2 separate regions of the Homo sapiens genome follow, and region 2 is linked to region 1. Evidence: fine-mapped expression QTL. A gene starts in region 1. The other region holds a variant in brackets. All regions are shown on one strand. Distances are between the middles of the regions. Region 1 holds the start of TEX10 (testis expressed 10). Region 2 overlaps INVS (inversin).

The links. PIP is the estimated chance that this variant, and not a neighbour inherited with it, causes the effect. A credible set is the group of variants that fine-mapping cannot tell apart.
Region 2: its variant is the best candidate, but not a certain one, in a credible set for the expression of TEX10 in whole blood (INTERVAL, PIP 0.66).

Annotation. Positions count from the first base shown.
Region 1 is chr9:100,348,254-100,356,593 of GRCh38, forward strand. It overlaps TEX10 (testis expressed 10), which reads right to left and starts at 4,689. Exons shown (of 15, transcript NM_017746.4): 1 at 4,519-4,689; 2 at 931-1,119. The coding sequence starts at 1,110. It overlaps LOC105376177 (a long non-coding RNA gene), which reads left to right and starts at 4,797. Exons shown (of 4, transcript NR_188642.1): 1 at 4,797-5,328; 2 at 5,744-5,842. RefSeq lists enhancers at 3,928-3,977, 4,382-5,016 and a silencer at 4,318-4,867.
Region 2 is chr9:100,291,364-100,299,703 of GRCh38, forward strand. INVS (inversin) reads left to right here. Exons shown (of 17, transcript NM_014425.5): 14 at 963-1,680; 15 at 5,554-5,783; 16 at 6,573-6,647. Among named protein-coding and RNA genes, the nearest start is that of TEX10, 57 kb to the right of the region's middle. The variant A/G (reference allele first, on the strand shown) is at 4,076.

The DNA of each region.
Region 1 (8,340 bases):
CCTAGGGCTGGAAGAAATGAGAAGTGATTCCTAATGGGTATAAGTTTTCTTCTTGGAGTGATAAAAACGTTCTAAAATTAGATTAAGGTGATAGTAGCATAACTCTGTAAATATACCAAAACCAATGAATTGTATTCTTTAAATGAGAGATTTTAATTATGTGTAAATTATATCTCCATAAAGCTGTTAGATTCTTAAGCAACACTTCTCAAACTTCAATTGACTTCAAGTATTTACTACAAACCTATAATAAACTATGTGCTGTATGGGTTCAAAAATGAATGACAGGATTGTATCTTAATTCGCTAAAAAACAGCTAGAAAACTGTTCATCAAAAATTTGACACATCAAAAACATGTAAGAATTATTTCCAGATACAGCCAGGTGCCGTGGTTCACGCCTACAATCCCAGCACCTCAGGAGGCCTTGGCTGGAGGATTGCTTGCATCCAAGAGTTTGAGACCAGCCTGGGCAACATATTGCAACCTTGCCTCCACAAAAAAATAAATTAGCCAGGCATGGTGACGCTCGCCTGCAGCCCCAGCTACTTGGGAGGCTGAAGTAGGAGGATCACTTGAGCCCAGAAGGTCCTGGCTGCAGTGAGCCATGATAGCACCCCATTGTGCTCAACATGGTGTAAGAGTGAGACCTGTCTCAAAATAAATAAATAAATAAATAAATAAATCATCAAATAAATATACCAGGGAGAAACAACTGTGCATTTAGTTTAGCGAACGTTTCTGGAGGAAGTGGAAAGACACAGCTGCATGAGAGATCTTTGGGTAAAAGATAAACTCCAAACATCAATAAACCCTAAGACCCTAGGCAAACTATTTACTCTAAGAGTTTAGACAAATTTTCACAAAAATATAACATTCTACACGATTCCAAAGAAAATCTTATTTTGTCAAAACATGATTTATGATTTACCTTTATGTTAAGTTTTCTATTGTTTGTTGGAAGTGTTCCATCCTCTTTGAGTTGCTCAGGCAGATGTATAGTCTTTGTTTTAAAGTTTGTAGGAGTAGCATTTTGTAACTTGGGCTTCTTTTTACCAACTTTCAATTTTACTTTTTGAAAATCATGTTGGCGTTTTCTTTTTTTAGTCATTCTCGACTACTATAATGAAAAGAATTAATTAAAAGCAATGGATAGAGACAAGAATAAATTATGAAAAAAGGCACTTTCCAACACATACTACTGTAACATTTATTTCAATCGTAATCAAGAATCTGATTATGCTGAAAGATCAAAATATTAAAAAATGCTGTTAAGAACTATTAAAAACTCAGTTTAGTGATAAAATACTGTAACAAGGCAACAGTCTTGCCACGGTTTTGCAAAGTTTTTTGGGTCACAGAACCTTTTGTCAAGCTATATGCTAAAGGGAAACCTTCTGAAATGTGTTTTTTTTTTGTTTTCCTTTGTTCGAGTGTAGGAGAGCAGCACAGACTTCCTAGAGATGTAACTTGTATCTGCTGGTGTGCTCCTGGGCTTCGTAAGAGCCTCGGAGGAACTTCTCTAGCAATACCAAACAAAGTTGGAAAACCAATGTTATTCTTTAATGCAGCCTATAACCATTAGAAAAAGATTTATGAACCTAAGCTGAGCATGTGAAAAATGGGTAATATTCAAATACACAGCAAGGAGAATAATAGGCCTTTCAAGAGCAAGGAAAACAAGGTAAAGATCAGGTGTAGGGGATAAACCTAGCACAGCAAAAGTGAATAAACCTCAGACTAAACAGAAAACAGTATTCCCCCTTGGTCCCCAAAAAGGATAAAAAGCAGCATAAAAAGAAATATAATGTAATAGGGGGATAAGGAACAAAGACCAGCTAAGCCACTATTATAATAAATAACTCAGGCATAACACCATGCCATCTTGTACTTCCTCCCCCTCTATACCACATTCCAAACCTTGCACTTACACATGAAATCTTTGATCTGTGTCTCTTACCCATTTCCAGGCCACTACTTTCAAGAAGTCCTTTATTTCTACCATTCAATACCTTCCCCACTGGTACTCCTGCCTACTATCTAGTGTCTCCTCTCTAGTCCACTGGCCCTTTACGAAACAGCTCTCTCTGAACACAGATCTCATGACCAAGACTCAAGAGTTCTCAGCTGTTCTATTCCTCATACATAGTAAAACCTCCTTAGCAGGACATATGAGGTCCTTCCTAATGTGGCCCCATCCATCCTCTCCAGCTTTATCTTCCCACAAGCTAATCTCTATCTAAAACAATAGCCTCTTCTACCTGGAACCAGCTAAATTCTTCTTGAAGCCTTTTCCACACCTGAGAACAATACTGTACACCACTTGAATAGGGTAAGTACCTCTGGAATATATAAAACTTCTGCTAATCTCCTGGTTTATCATAATTATCCTGTGCCTGGCCATAAAAAGTGACAATGCTACACATGAGGGTATAAAAAAATGGGTAAAACGAAAGTTTCCTTTATTACAATATTAATAAAATGGCCAGTGCAATACTGAACAGCTCAAGTTCAAGGAATTCAGAAGCCAATCAGCTATGACAATATATCCAAATTTACTTAATTACAGGGTTATATTAGATCGCCATGAGGTAGGATTTCCCACAGGTTAAGAACCAATTCTACAACCAGATTGATTAGGCTTTTATCCAAACTCTGACGCCTTCCAGCTGTACACTGTCCCAATTTCTATCTACAAAATAGGGATAATCATACACAATTGTAAAACACTCAGAACTGTGCCTGGTACATGGTTAAATACGTATGCTCAAAGCATAAACATGTGCGTGTCCCTCAAGTCTCAGGATCAGGACATACCAAGCCCGGTACTAGATGCATTGTGTACCTCAGTATACAATCTGCACAGAACCATGCAAGGTAGGTGGAACTAAACCCATTTTAACAATGTACCTCAGAAAAGTTTGGAAGTCACGCCTTTATCAAGAAGTTGAAAAGGGATTCATTCACAGAACTGAGCTCTGCAAAACCACCTTTAACATACCAGAATTAACCTGAAGACTGGAAGTCTTCGTGGCAAAACAGTTTGGCTTATTTCATTTGTCCCTATTACCAAATTTTCATCTCACCCACACCTCTAGTTACCTTAGTCTTAAAAAACAAAACAAAACAAAAAAAAAAGCTGGGGGTCGGTGGGTGGGTGGGTGGGAGGGAATAAGGCCTAAAAAGAAGGCCATGATACTCACCTGGCCTCTTTTAATACAAAAATGGTTTTCATTAATTAAGCAAGCACACTTTGTGAGCTTTTCCTACAATTTTATTACTAGCTGGTACTAGACACGAAAGTAAATGGTACAGGACATTCAGAAAAATTAACTCCCTTCCTCCTCCACTCCTGTGGGTTCTATTTAGCCATTAACCACCTGATAGATCTTCAACAGTCTACTGTCAACTTCATGCCATATTATCTATCGCTTTGTATTAGTCACATTAATGCTTTCTCTGTTAGGAAAATTAAGAAGGCTGATTGACCTTCCTTGACTTTTCAAACCTAGTAATATTATTACGGGATACAAAGCATTTTCATGCGAAGAACTCTCAAAGTTCTACTAGTAATTGACTTTAACTTATAACAAAGATTTTCATAACACAGCAAATCAAAAAGTCCCACTAAGCCACTTTTACAGTAGCCGGTTTTTAGCAAAAGGTAGGAACGCCAGTCTCAGAGGAGGAGCTCACATCACTAGTCCTTAGGTTTGCGATCCCCAATAGTTTCAAAGCTGAATGTCACACATTCCTACTGTAGGTCTTTTCTAATTCCAACAAAAGGCAGATCCTAGCGTTTTTAGGATTTCAATCGAACTAAATTCCAACTATAAATAGTTTGCCTGCCACCTTCTTACCCTTCCTCATTTCCACCTTCTTTTCCAAAAAAAATCAGAGAGAACGATCGTACTGCACTCGGCCTTTGATAATTTCCTCCCCAAACCCTTAAACTCATGAGTTCCTCCAAACTCCACTGAGGGGCCAACCAGAGGCGACAGACTTCCCAAAAAGCAAATGGCCCAGGCAGGGGCGACCCCAGAAAACTGGTAGTCCCCTTCCGCTCGCTTAACTCTCCCGCCTGGGCGACCAGAGGACGGAACAGGGGACGCCAGCTCATCCCCACTCCGTATTCGGTCCTGCATCCATCCCAGAGGCGAACACACCATGGGTTTTAGGAAACCATCGTTCCTCCTACTCCAAGGGACGCCGGCCAGGACCAGAGTCGGGGAAGTGGGGCCCGATTCACACACTCCGGGCTAAAACTCTCTCGGACCCGAAACCAGGCGAACCCGCCCAGTCACCTGAAGCTCCGCAAACGCCCTAGGGGGTCCCGCCCCCGCAGTGCCGGCCGCACACCCAGGCCCAGCTCGGAGGGACGCCGCGGCCCAGACCCGGGGGACGCAAATCGTGCACGGCCGACCCTGCCCGCTTGGGCCGCGGATCGGGGGGCGACGGCCCCACCACGCTCAGTCCCGCGCCCCGGGAGGACCCGGCCCGACGGGCGACGGCCGCTTACCTGAGGACCCGGCCGCGGCCGGGGCGAGAAGCCCGAGAAGACAAGCGAGGGAGCAGAAGCCCACGGGGCAACAGCGTGCGCCGCCGACCTCAGGCTCTAGCTCCCGGAGCGTGTTTTCAAATAGCCTCGTCCTCACGCGGCCGCGTCTCCTTCCGCCGCCCGGAAATCAGGGCCCCTCCCCCTCCCTGCTGTGCTCACGTGATCGCAGCCCGCAGCCGCGCGCAACCGGGGAGGCGGGAGCGGGAGCGGTAGGCCCCGCCCACAGAGGAGGGTACCCCGCCGGAAGCCCCCTGCTCTGTGGGAACCGGAGGGAGGACAGCGCGAGGTCCCCGGACAAAGCGTGGCGCATAAGTCCGGCCCGTAACTTGGTGGGCAGGCAACTTAGGGGATGTGGGCCTGGTTATAGCTGAGCATGCTTTTCTATTCCTCCCAGACCACAGTTCTTCAGACCTGGAGCCACTTTCAGAGAAGAGTATAAGTTGCACTGAATTGAAAAAGGGAAAAGTTTAGGACTGCAGAAGATGGAATTCCTGGGGACGTTAAACTGGGCTAAGATGGAGCAGATAAGATTTCCTTAATTAGAGCAAGACACACCTAGTATCTAGAGCCTGGAAGTCTTGGTCAAGGATTCTCCCTAACATCTCAGTTTCTCAGCACTAACATTCCTGCTACTAAAATGAAGTGAGAAATTAATTTCTGAAGTTAAGTAAAGAAATAAACTAAAATTCCTAGAAAAGAGGTAAGAAGAATGAGCCTTTGAAAAATGTCTTCACAAAGACTGGCATGATGGCATGGAAGAAAGAGCCCCAGGTAAGGACTTCAGACCTTGATTCAAATTTGTGTCTACACCTCACCAGATAATTAAGACTTAGTAAAGCTAGCGAAGATATTGACCCTCATTATATTGGGTGGGAATTCAAAGGAATGATGTCTAAATCCAGGGAGACCCAAGCACTGGAACTAAAACCATGCCTGTTCCATAATCGGAGATAAAGAGGCAGCGCTAGAAACCCTGACCTCCCTTTGCTGGCAATATGGCCACATCACCACAATCTGCCTGGAATCGACCATAACCATAAATATTTGGGAGTCATTGGCATTATGTGGCATTATATTCTGTTTAAAGCTATGAGACTAGATCAGAAGAGGAAAGATTTATTGCCAACCAGACAAGTCCCTGGAACTCCAAACTTGTATCCAACAGTTTTTTCAATGTTTCCTTCAGATATCCAGTATACATCTCAAGGTCAACTTGTCCAAAACAGAGCTACTGATGATTTTCCCCTTGAAATCTACTCTTCCTACAGCTTATTCATCTCAAATAGTAAGTCTGTCCTTGCAGTTACTCAAGCAGAAACCTTTGGGTTTTTGGTTTGGCCTCTTTGTTCCACACCTCACATCTAATCCATCTGGAGATTGACTCTACCTTTAAAGACATCCTAACTTTCACCAGTTAACACACCTCCCCTGCTACCATTCTGGTCCAAGCCGCTTCTTGATCACTGCAAAAAGCCTGCAAACACATCTTCCTGCTTCCCTTATTGTCCTTCTTCCCCCTACAGTCTGGTATCAGCAGAGCAGCTGTGTGATTATTTTAAGATCTAGGTTAGATCAGATCACTCTTTGGCTCAAAACCCTTTAATGGCTCCCTATTTCACTTCGAGTAAAACCCAGAGTCCTTTCTAGGGCCTTCCCTTAGGCTGTTCTTGCATGGCTATAAAGAAATACCTGAGACTGGGTAATTTACAAAGAAAAGAGGTTTAATTGGCTCATGATTCTGCTGGCTTTACAGGAAGCATTATGTTGGCATCTGCTTGCTTTTGGTGAAGTCTCAGGGAGCTTTCAATCATAGAAGGTGAAGGGGGAACAGGCATGTCACATGTTGAAAGCAGGAGCAAGAGAGAGAGCAAAAGAAAAGAGACAGAGAGAGAGAGAGGTGCCACACATTTTTAAACAGCCAAATCTGATGAGAACTCACTATCACTAAACAAGCACCAAGCCATGAGGGATCCACCCCCATGACCCAAGCATGTCCCACCAGGCCCCACCTCCAGCATTGAGGATTACAACACAACATGAGATTTGAGCAGGGACAAATATCCAAACCATATCAGTTCTCAAGCTCTTCCATATTCTGACACAGTCTCTTACCATCTGAGCACTCCTCCTTCCACTCTCCCCTTTTTTACTCTGCTCCAGTCACACTTGCTTCTTTGCCTTCCTCAAACACCAGTGACACACTCCTGCTTTTGGACCTTTTCTTTAGCTTTTCTGTCTGCCTGAAACACTCTTCCCCAATAAGTCCATGTGGCTAACTCCCTCTCCTCCCGAGTCCACTCAAATATCTTCTCAGGGAGCCCTACCCTGACCACCTCATTTAAAATAACAAATTACCTTCTCCCAGGACTTGCAATTTCCCTTTAGAACATATCACCTTCTGGGAACATCACACTCTGGGGACTGTTGTGGGGTGGGGGGAGGGGGGAGGGATAGCTTTAGGAGATATACCTAATGCTAAATGACGAGTTAATGGGTGCAGCACACCAGCATGGCACATGTATACATATGTAACTAACCTGCACATTGTGCACATGTACCCTAAAACTTAAAGTATAATAATAATAAAATAAAAAAGAACATATCGCCTTCTAATATACCATGTAATTTACTTATTTATCATAATGATTATTTGATTCTGTCCTTCATCCACCACTAATATGTAAGTTTTACATGGGTCGTTTGTTTTATTCCCTGGTATATTCCAAGTAGCTAGAGCAGTGTCTGGCACCTAGTAGGCCCTCAATAAATATTTGTTGAATAAATGTCTAGGAAGCACCTGCTACATAGCGGTGCTGAGCAAACACTAGCTCTTATTGTTTCCCTACTTCACTGCAGCACAGGGTTTATAGACTCAGCCCATTAAGTGGGTCTGGTGGCTATGTAGCTGACAGAAGTACTCCTGGCCTGACTAAAGGAAGCAGCAGATCTTCAGCAACAGTCAACTGTTGTCATGAGGAAATGCAAATCTTCTCATTTTTCAAGCAAACCGGAAATCCAGTGTTTAAGTCCATTCTCTGCTGCTATAACAGAATACCACAGACTGGGTAGTTTACAATGAACAGAAGACTATTTGGCTAATGCTTCTGCAGCTGAGAAGTCCAAGAGTGTGGCATCAGCATCTGGTGAGGGTCATCCATACCATGACAGAAGGGTAGAAGGCAGAAGTGAGCTCTAGAGACAGAGAGAACAAATCAGGTTGAATTCATCCTATTTGTCAAGAGCTCACACCCAGGATAACTAACCCACTCCCACAATAACAATTATCTATTCATGAGGGCAGAGCCCTCATAACCTAATCACCTCTTAAAGGTCCGGCTTCTCAATACTGTTAGAGTGGCAATTAAATTTCAAAATGAGTTTTGGAGGGGACATTCAAACCATAACATCCAGAAATGTTTATAAGAAATCTGCTCTTTAAATATTGGCAAGTACATTTTTCCCCCTATTTTCGAAACACTGTGTAGGCCAAACAAAATACTTATTGCCAGTTGCCAGTTTACTGTCTCTGGTTTAGGACATAAAAAGTTTGTACTTGAAGACAGGCTTTTTCCAACTCTTAAGTGATGAACGCAACAATTGTAAGGATTGATCACTTCCCGAGCTTGAAGAGATCTTTGATAAATAACAAGCATGTAATTAATCAAGGTCCTTCACCCATGCCAGAAAAACATTATTTACAACGAACATACATTCTGGAATGTGTAGGACACTCCAATTCCAAAACTCTGTCCAGTTGGCCACATAGGTGCTGTGTTTAGTTTC
Region 2 (8,340 bases), 57 kb before region 1:
TTTCAGTTTAGATGTTGTATTTGTTTTTCAAATCTATCCTTTTCTCGTATTTTAAACTTCTTTTGTGTGTTTAATCAACGTGTGTGTGCTAACGTTTTGAGAGATCTGATCTTGCTATTGTGTTAACTGTTGCTTATGGTACATTGTTTCCTCATGCATTTTGTGATTTTGGATTGTGAAGTCATTTTCAGAGGACTCCGTTGTGCAGCCTGAGTTGAGGGCATGTCACACTAAAGCAATATTGTGTTTGCTTCTGTGAGGCATCCTGGGATATCTCCATCCTAAGACCAGTTTTTATAGTAATATCTCCTATGGATTGAGAATAAATGAATACCAAGCCCATGTAAGGAAGACGACTTTGGTTTTAAATTCTTATGGGAGACTCCTTACCCCATCCAGAACCTGGGCTGAAACAAACTTCCTTGTCATCTCTAAGTGCTGGAGAGCAGATTTTAAAATCTGGATTATTTCCAAAAGGTATATCCCTTCAAGAGTGCTGGCTTCATGTAGAGTCTTGGTTCCAGTTAACTTTCTTCCTGCAAGGACTCATTTTCTGTTCTTATGTAGATGTTAAAGCACAGCCAGATATTTAATAAGACCATCTGTTGCCCACTCCACCACCATTACCTGCCTAGACAGTCACTGGATCAGCTCACATACTTAATTGCTTTGATTTTCAATTTTCTCTTTGTTTTTGGCCTCCAGAGTTCCTTTATTTTCTTAAAGGCATGACAGTGCTTTCCAAAGGATATCCACTATATTTTCGTTAAGGCGAGAAGGGCTTCAGGTTATCTAACCTACCATATTGCTGGAAATAGAAGTTAAACCGTTTTTTTCCTAGTCTGTAACTGCCACTATTATGGTGATGATATAGGCTAAGTCTGAATATTTTATGTGAACATATTAGGAAAATTATCCTACTCTGCAAGTTTTGGACAATATTTTTTCTTTGTTTCCTCAAGAAACAGCCAGAGAACATTCTAAAGGCCAATCTGCTTGTGTCCACTTCAGACCCAATGAAGGCAGTGATGGAAGCAGGCATCCAGGAGTTCCCTCTGTTGAGAAGTCCAGAGGTGAGACAGCTGGCGATGAGCGGTGTGCAAAGGGGAAAGGCTTCGTGAAGCAGCCCTCCTGTATCAGGGTGGCTGGGCCTGATGAGAAAGGAGAGGACTCCAGGCGGGCAGCTGCAAGCCTTCCACCGCACGATAGCCACTGGAAGCCCAGCAGGCGGCATGACACAGAACCCAAGGCCAAATGTGCCCCCCAGAAAAGGCGCACTCAAGAGCTCAGAGGAGGAAGGTGCTCTCCGGCTGGTTCTAGCCGCCCTGGCAGTGCCCGGGGGGAGGCGGTCCATGCTGGGCAGAATCCTCCCCACCATCGTACACCAAGAAACAAAGTGACACAAGCCAAGCTCACAGGAGGGCTCTATTCACATTTGCCACAGAGCACAGAGGAGTTGAGGTCAGGAGCTAGGAGGCTGGAGACATCTACCCTGTCCGAGGACTTTCAGGTATCTAAGGAGACTGATCCAGCACCTGGTCCCCTCTCTGGGCAGAGTGTGAATATTGACCTTCTCCCCGTAGAGCTCCGACTGCAGATAATTCAGAGAGAACGAAGGAGGAAGGAGCTGTTTCGCAAAAAGAACAAGGCAGCAGCAGTCATCCAGCGCGCCTGGCGAAGGTAGGAAAATGGGGTGCTGCCGCATCTGTGGTTCTTTGTTACTGATATTCTCAACATGACATCTGTGCTCTTTGATGTTTTCCCAGTGAGTTCCATGTGGTGGCATGGTAAGGCCAATTTTATAGAGCCTACCCATGAAATTCACACCAGATCCTAGTAATTTACATTGTATAAACCATTTGGAAGATGTTTTTGCCTAGAAAGATGGGAAAGTGCTCAGGACAGCATGGGGTAAAGGAAAAAGCCCTGGGTTTGTAACCATGAAATGTGAGGTTCAGGTAAGCTCTAACAGGTTATGTGACTTTGGGCAAATCACATGGCCCCCCTGACCCTCTGCTTCTTCATCTGTAAAACAGGATTTAATAATTGTTGCACATGTCCTGTTAATATGACAGGTTGCTGGAATGAGATAATGCACGCTTCATTAATTCTAAATTACTACACATAGGAGATACTTTATTTTTATTCTTATGTCTTTACTACCCAGGAACTAGTCATACTCCAAACACCTAAACCAGGGTCTGGATATAACAGATTGAGTGACTAAACTGTATTATGTAAACCTGTCTGAGCATCTACCAAGCTCAAAATACATAGTAGGCACTGGGAGTGGGGGTGAAGGCTGTCCTAAAAGCCTGAAACAGACTCCCAATATAGTAGAGACAAATGCCGCTAGGGGATGATTATGGGAGGACTTGAGGGGTCTTATTGCTACAAATGTTCACGTCTCATAATCTCTTTCATCCTGAAAGCCTCACTAGAGCCTAAATCTAAATTAGGCCTTACAGTGATGAATGTCCAGAGAGAAGCTGGACCCATCACCAATAGGTGGGAGTTGGCCGGGCAGAGTGGCTTACACCTGTAACCCCAGCACTTTGGGAGGCCGAGGAGGGAGGATCACTTGAACCCAGGGTTATGAGACGAGACCACCCCAGGAAACACGGCCAAACTCCGTCTCTACAAAAAGTACAACAATTACCTACGCATGGTGGCACATGCCTGTAGTCCTAGCTATTTGTGAGGCTGAGGCAGGAGGATCGCTTGAGCCCAGGAGGTCAAGGCCACAGTGAGCCATCACCATGCCACAGAACTCCAGCCTGGGCGACAGAGTGAGACCCTGTCTCAAGAAAAGAAATAGGTGGAAGTTATGTCGCCGCCATCACTGGGGAGAGGAAGACGGATGGGGAGGGAGACAAGGCAAGGAAATAATGCGGCACAGGTGTATGAGATATCGAGGTTCCCGTCAGGAGAAAAAGGAAGACGTTCTCTCCTTAACATTGGCAGGGAGAAAACTAGATAGATTCCCAGGAGGTCCAGGGAGAGGCCTCCGTTCATATCATACCAGAGACTGCCTAACCCAGAGCCGGGTGATCTGGTTTGTGCTTGCACAGGCTTTGCAATGTGTTCTCCCTATGTCTGTTTCAGCTCTTGGCCATTAACAAAGTCCTCTCATGCCTGACCCCATGTGAACTCCCAACCACACCAGGAAGCCATCATGACAGGGAGCAGTATCCCCATTTTTCAGACGAGAGGAAAAACTGACTTGTCCTTTTGGTGCAGATCCAGCACTTGAACCTCTGGCTGACTCAAATCCAAGGGCCTTTCCCTTACATTATTAGTGAAGTTAGTTTTTGCTGTGGTCAAGCTAAGGGAGGTGGAGGTGGGCCCCATGCACTTTGCCTGAAAATAGGCTGGAGAAGGCTGCCTGGTTGGTGTCACACACATCAGGGTAACCAGGAGAAGGGTGATGTTACTACTACCAATTGTTAACATACTAGTATTATTTATTGGACACTTGTGCCACTGTTCAAACTAGTTTTACCTGTGCATGTAATCGTCACTGATAACCCTGCAAGGTAGGTATTGTTCTTATCCCCGTTACACAGATGAGGAAACTGAAGCACAGAGAGGTTCATCAACTCACCAACATTACAGAGCAAGTGCCAGGGCTGGCTTTGAGCCAAGACAGTCGGCCTCGAAAGCCACAGGTGGAAATGGCCATTGCACTCTGTGGGACATGCACTGGCTACCATCCAGATGAACTTTTTAAGTATTCTGGCTAAAATCTAGGATCTAAACAAGCCAGCAAGGTTTACCACGCCAGACCCCACAGCTGCTCCCTACCTGAAATGTCTCCTTCTCCGACTGTCTGACTCCTTTGAAGAGTCAGAAGCTGACAGGTCCTGTCAGTAAGTGACCAGAGTAGCAAATGAGCCTTCAGTCATTCCCCCAAGAACAGTGGGCTTATGGTCTAACATGCCCACCTGCGTAGGTAACTACACAGGCCCCCTCTGGATGTGCCATTGTGCAATTCTGAGGCCCAAAGGACTTCTGGGATTGTTGCACATTGCAGAAAGCCAAGTCTGGTGACAGTAAACACACTTTTATTGATTCT[A/G]TTATATTTTAACTACATTTTCTATTGTAAATACAGGAGCCTGAAGCGCTGTCCTGCAAGTGTATCTGATAGCAAACCTAAGCAGTGAGGGCTGGGGCAGGGGTCAGGGCTGGACACTAAGTGTTCAGTGCAGGCTGTGGTTATAGGGGACAGGTGGAGGATGGAGAAAAGGAGCTGGAAAACAGGCAGGGAAGAAGTGGGCAAAATGAACCTTGGGTCCTGAGAAAATGAAACTTGATCTTAAAATTGTCAGTTTAATAACCAAGTAAGATGACTATTTTAAAGATTGAAACAGGATCCTGGACAAGCTGAGCAGGAAAGGTGCTGCTGGGCCCACTGAGGGCTGACACCATTAACAGCTTCAGCCACTACCTGGGCTTCCCCCCAAGTTCTGTGCCCACAAGAGCAGAAGGTATGGAAGACAGCATTTCAAACAGGAGAAACTGAATTATAGCGCGGTAGTGCCATACTTTTCTCTAGACTTGGCTTTTTGGAAATGTGGTACGTATTCTAGTAGAGGGATGCCATGGTGTTACCCTCCAGGACAGAAGGAAGAGTAGTGTAGGCTGACTGAAATCAGCCTTTGGGGAAGGAGGGAGGGGCTGCACCAAGCGCTGCAAGGAGCTTTTAGCAGACTTAGGAAAAAGATTACTTCCCATTTGGTGCAGCCCAAATGGGATCACTGTAAAATCAGACATGAAGCCTGTTGCTCTCTGCAGCTACCTATAGGCTCACTAGGAATAAAGACAGATACAGATAATAAACATTGCTGCAGCTTTCCTTTGGAGGCCTCAAAATAGTTGTTGTGCTCAGTAAGTTTGGGAGTGCATGTGGGACTGAAAACATCAAATAAATCCTAGATGTAAATATAGCCATCATCCCCATTCCTCACCCACTCTAAACCCACCTCCAACAGACTTATCTTAGTAAGATGCAGCTCATACCTTTACCACTCTAAAGCCCCCTTTCGTCACCAAAGACACAGTGCTTCCACATTGTGTTACTGACTTTCTGGCACAAATGCCTCTATCTATCTCTGCTGATGCCAGTTCTGCTACGTAGAATGCCCTTCTCTGCCTGGTAAGCTCCTATTCATCTTTTAAAATCCAGCACAAATATTAACCTTGTGAAACCTTACCAAACCATCAGTCAGTCCTGCATCTGTTTGCACAACCAGCTCCTTGCTCTTGCACAGTACTCTCATGCCACACGTACCTCTTTACACAGCAGCCTGTTCCACTAGTCTGTGAGCTCCTTGAAGGCAAGGAATCATGATTGAATCCTAGTTCAGGAGGTGTTTGATAATGGAAAAAGAATTCCACATTCAACATGCTGCCGCCAAAATTAGGAATGGGAGCTTGAATGAACCTACCAGGAATTCAGCAAATACTACTCCTATAGCTTCTAGAAACCTTAAGGAAATTTAGTTTTCTCAGTACTGTGATCTTAAAGCCTCTCCTCTCCTCTGACCCAACCAGCTACCAGCTCAGGAAGCACCTGTCCCACCTTCGGCATATGAAGCAGCTTGGAGCTGGAGATGTGGACAGATGGAGGCAAGAGTCTACAGCATTGCTCCTCCAGGTTTGGAGGAAGGAACTGGAACTAAAATTCCCCCAAACCACTGCAGTAAGCAAGGCCCCCAAGAGTCCATCCAAGGGCACCTCAGGCACAAAGTCCACCAAGCACTCAGTGCTTAAGCAAATCTATGGTAACTGTCCTTCTGCCTACTTTGTAGTTCACAAGTACCCCCAGAGTACCACATCAGAATCTGAAGTAGAATTTAATTACATTGGGTAAACTTCCATTCAGATAAATTAGGTTGGTGCAAAATTAATTGTATTATTAAAAATGGTCAAAACTGCAATTAATTTTGCACCAACCTAATATTTCTCAAGCACCATTTCATTCCTGCCTCCCAGCGATACTGGGTCATAATTGTTTGGTTTCGTGAGGCATTCTAGCATCTCAGCCCAGAGTGCCCTCAAGCTTTACTGTTTAAACCTCTCCAGACCCCTGCTTGAGTCTCCTCCTTGCATTACCCATTTGGAGCATTCACGACTTAGCTAGACTCTGCCTGTATCACTTTGACTTTTCCTATGCTGAGATGTTATAGGGTTGCCCACTATGAGAATGCTCAACACCCATGCACTATAGTAAATATTTGTTCAGCAGATTAACTGCTGTAAATTGAAACATTTTCAGCTCTGCAAAGAGCCCATCCAAATAGACCCAGTAGAGTTCAAGAAGCCTTGCTGGCTCAAGAGAAAAAAAGATAAGCAAGAGCACCTTTAGAAAGATCTCCTACAGCATGAACTTTAACATTCATTTAGCAAAATCTCAGGACTTTACCCTGGGCCTACATGTTTCCACACCATACCTAACTTATCTTGACACACACCTGCAAGCTCAAGCCTTTACCACAATAAGGAATTCAGAAGTTGGTCAGGCCAAACGTATCCCTGGCCAAAGAAAAGTAACAGTTGTTGGTTCATTTCAGGTTGTTCTCACGAAGGGAAAATACATCATCCTACAAGATCTGTAAAAGCCTCTTCTGTGCTGCGTCTCAACTCAGGTAAGGCAGCCACTGCAAAGCAGATGGTGGGGAAGAACATGGGGAAGCATTTTCCTTTGTTTCATCCCCAAAGACAGAAGACATTAGAACAGATATGGCCAGGGTTTTCCAATGGTCATTTGATTTCATGGGATTATTACTGTAGCCAACATCTGTCTCCCTAAGAGGCAAATTATTTTCACAACTAAAAGCTATTATTGTTAACATTAACTCCAACAGAAATAAATGGTAGCTATTATTGATCACTTTTACACATTTTTTCACACAAAGGAAATAAATGAAAATACTGTCACTCTTCAAAGGAATACCTTGGGAATCCTTGTTCCATTTTGGTGTCACACTATGATCCCCTATTTCCTTCTCCAAGATGGGAAGAACACCATGAAGAGAACACTGAGAGCATGTACAGCCCAGGCTCAGCTGTGCGTGCTTTCCCTCATACAGGAGAAGCTCAGGGAACTTTCTTTTCAGCCACCAAGACAAGAGTGTTTTACTTAGGGCCCCCTCATTCACACCAGCATTAAATATGGGTGATAAGTTCATTGCTGTCAGCAGCTAATGCCAGGTCCAGTGTTTCTCATAGGTGGCTATGGCAACACGCTCCCCCCTGCCTCCTCGATCCACACAGTCATCCTGGAGGAACAGAGTGCAGCTGGGAAGGTGAACAATGACTGTCAGCATGAACTTTAATATTCATTTAGTTTTTTGATGGGGGGCAAAAACCTGGAGGTGGGGGACAGAGTAATTACTGCCAAATCTTTAATAAGTGTTGGACAACTCATGTAATACAGACAGGCTGATCAGGGAGTGGTGGGTGGGGTAGTTAGAAACTTTCAAAGCAATCAAGGCCTACAGTCTGTTTAAAAACAAACAAACAAAAAAACCCCTTTCATTATACCTGAGCAAATTAAAGAATCATTTCAAAAACAGAATTGTCAGATATCACTACCAGAGAAGTGGCATTTAGACAATCAAATACTAGCATAAATTAGATAACTGGATCATTTTTCAGTCTTAAGAGAAAAACAAATCCAAGACTACCAGAAATCTTTTAAAATGGTGTTTAGCAGCATATAAGTTTTTTAGTTAAGAGACTCAGAAGGGACAGAGTAAATAAATTCAAATCAATACTTAATGATTTCTTAGGACTTCATATGAACAAGCAACTTACTTGTCCTACACATATTTTTGACTGGTTTAAAATCAGACAAGGATAAAATGATCTTTTCCTAACCCCAAATTTAGGAGAACACACAGTTTTGTTAGGCTCAAGCCCACCCACATTAAGCATTAACCAGTTAATGAATATTATTGCTCTCACCCTCCAACTTGGAGAACCCCCCACCCCCGAGGTTTTAGTAGTGCCTTTACCACTTAAAAAGGAAGAAGCAGAAAGGTGGATATAGCAAAATGCCAGCCTCCTTGGGCTGTTTCTCCACATGTATTTGGGAGGCAGCAAATCAATCCCTGCTCATGTCAGTCTTCTACACCCAGCCTTGCAAACCACCCACCAAGAATCTCAGCAGAGCCTTTTATTGACACACAACACACACACACACACACACACACACACACACACAGCCTTGCAAACCACCCACCAAGAATCTCAGCAGAGCCTTTTATTGACACACACACACACACACACACACACACACACACACACACACACACCTGGGCCTATCTCTTTAACAAT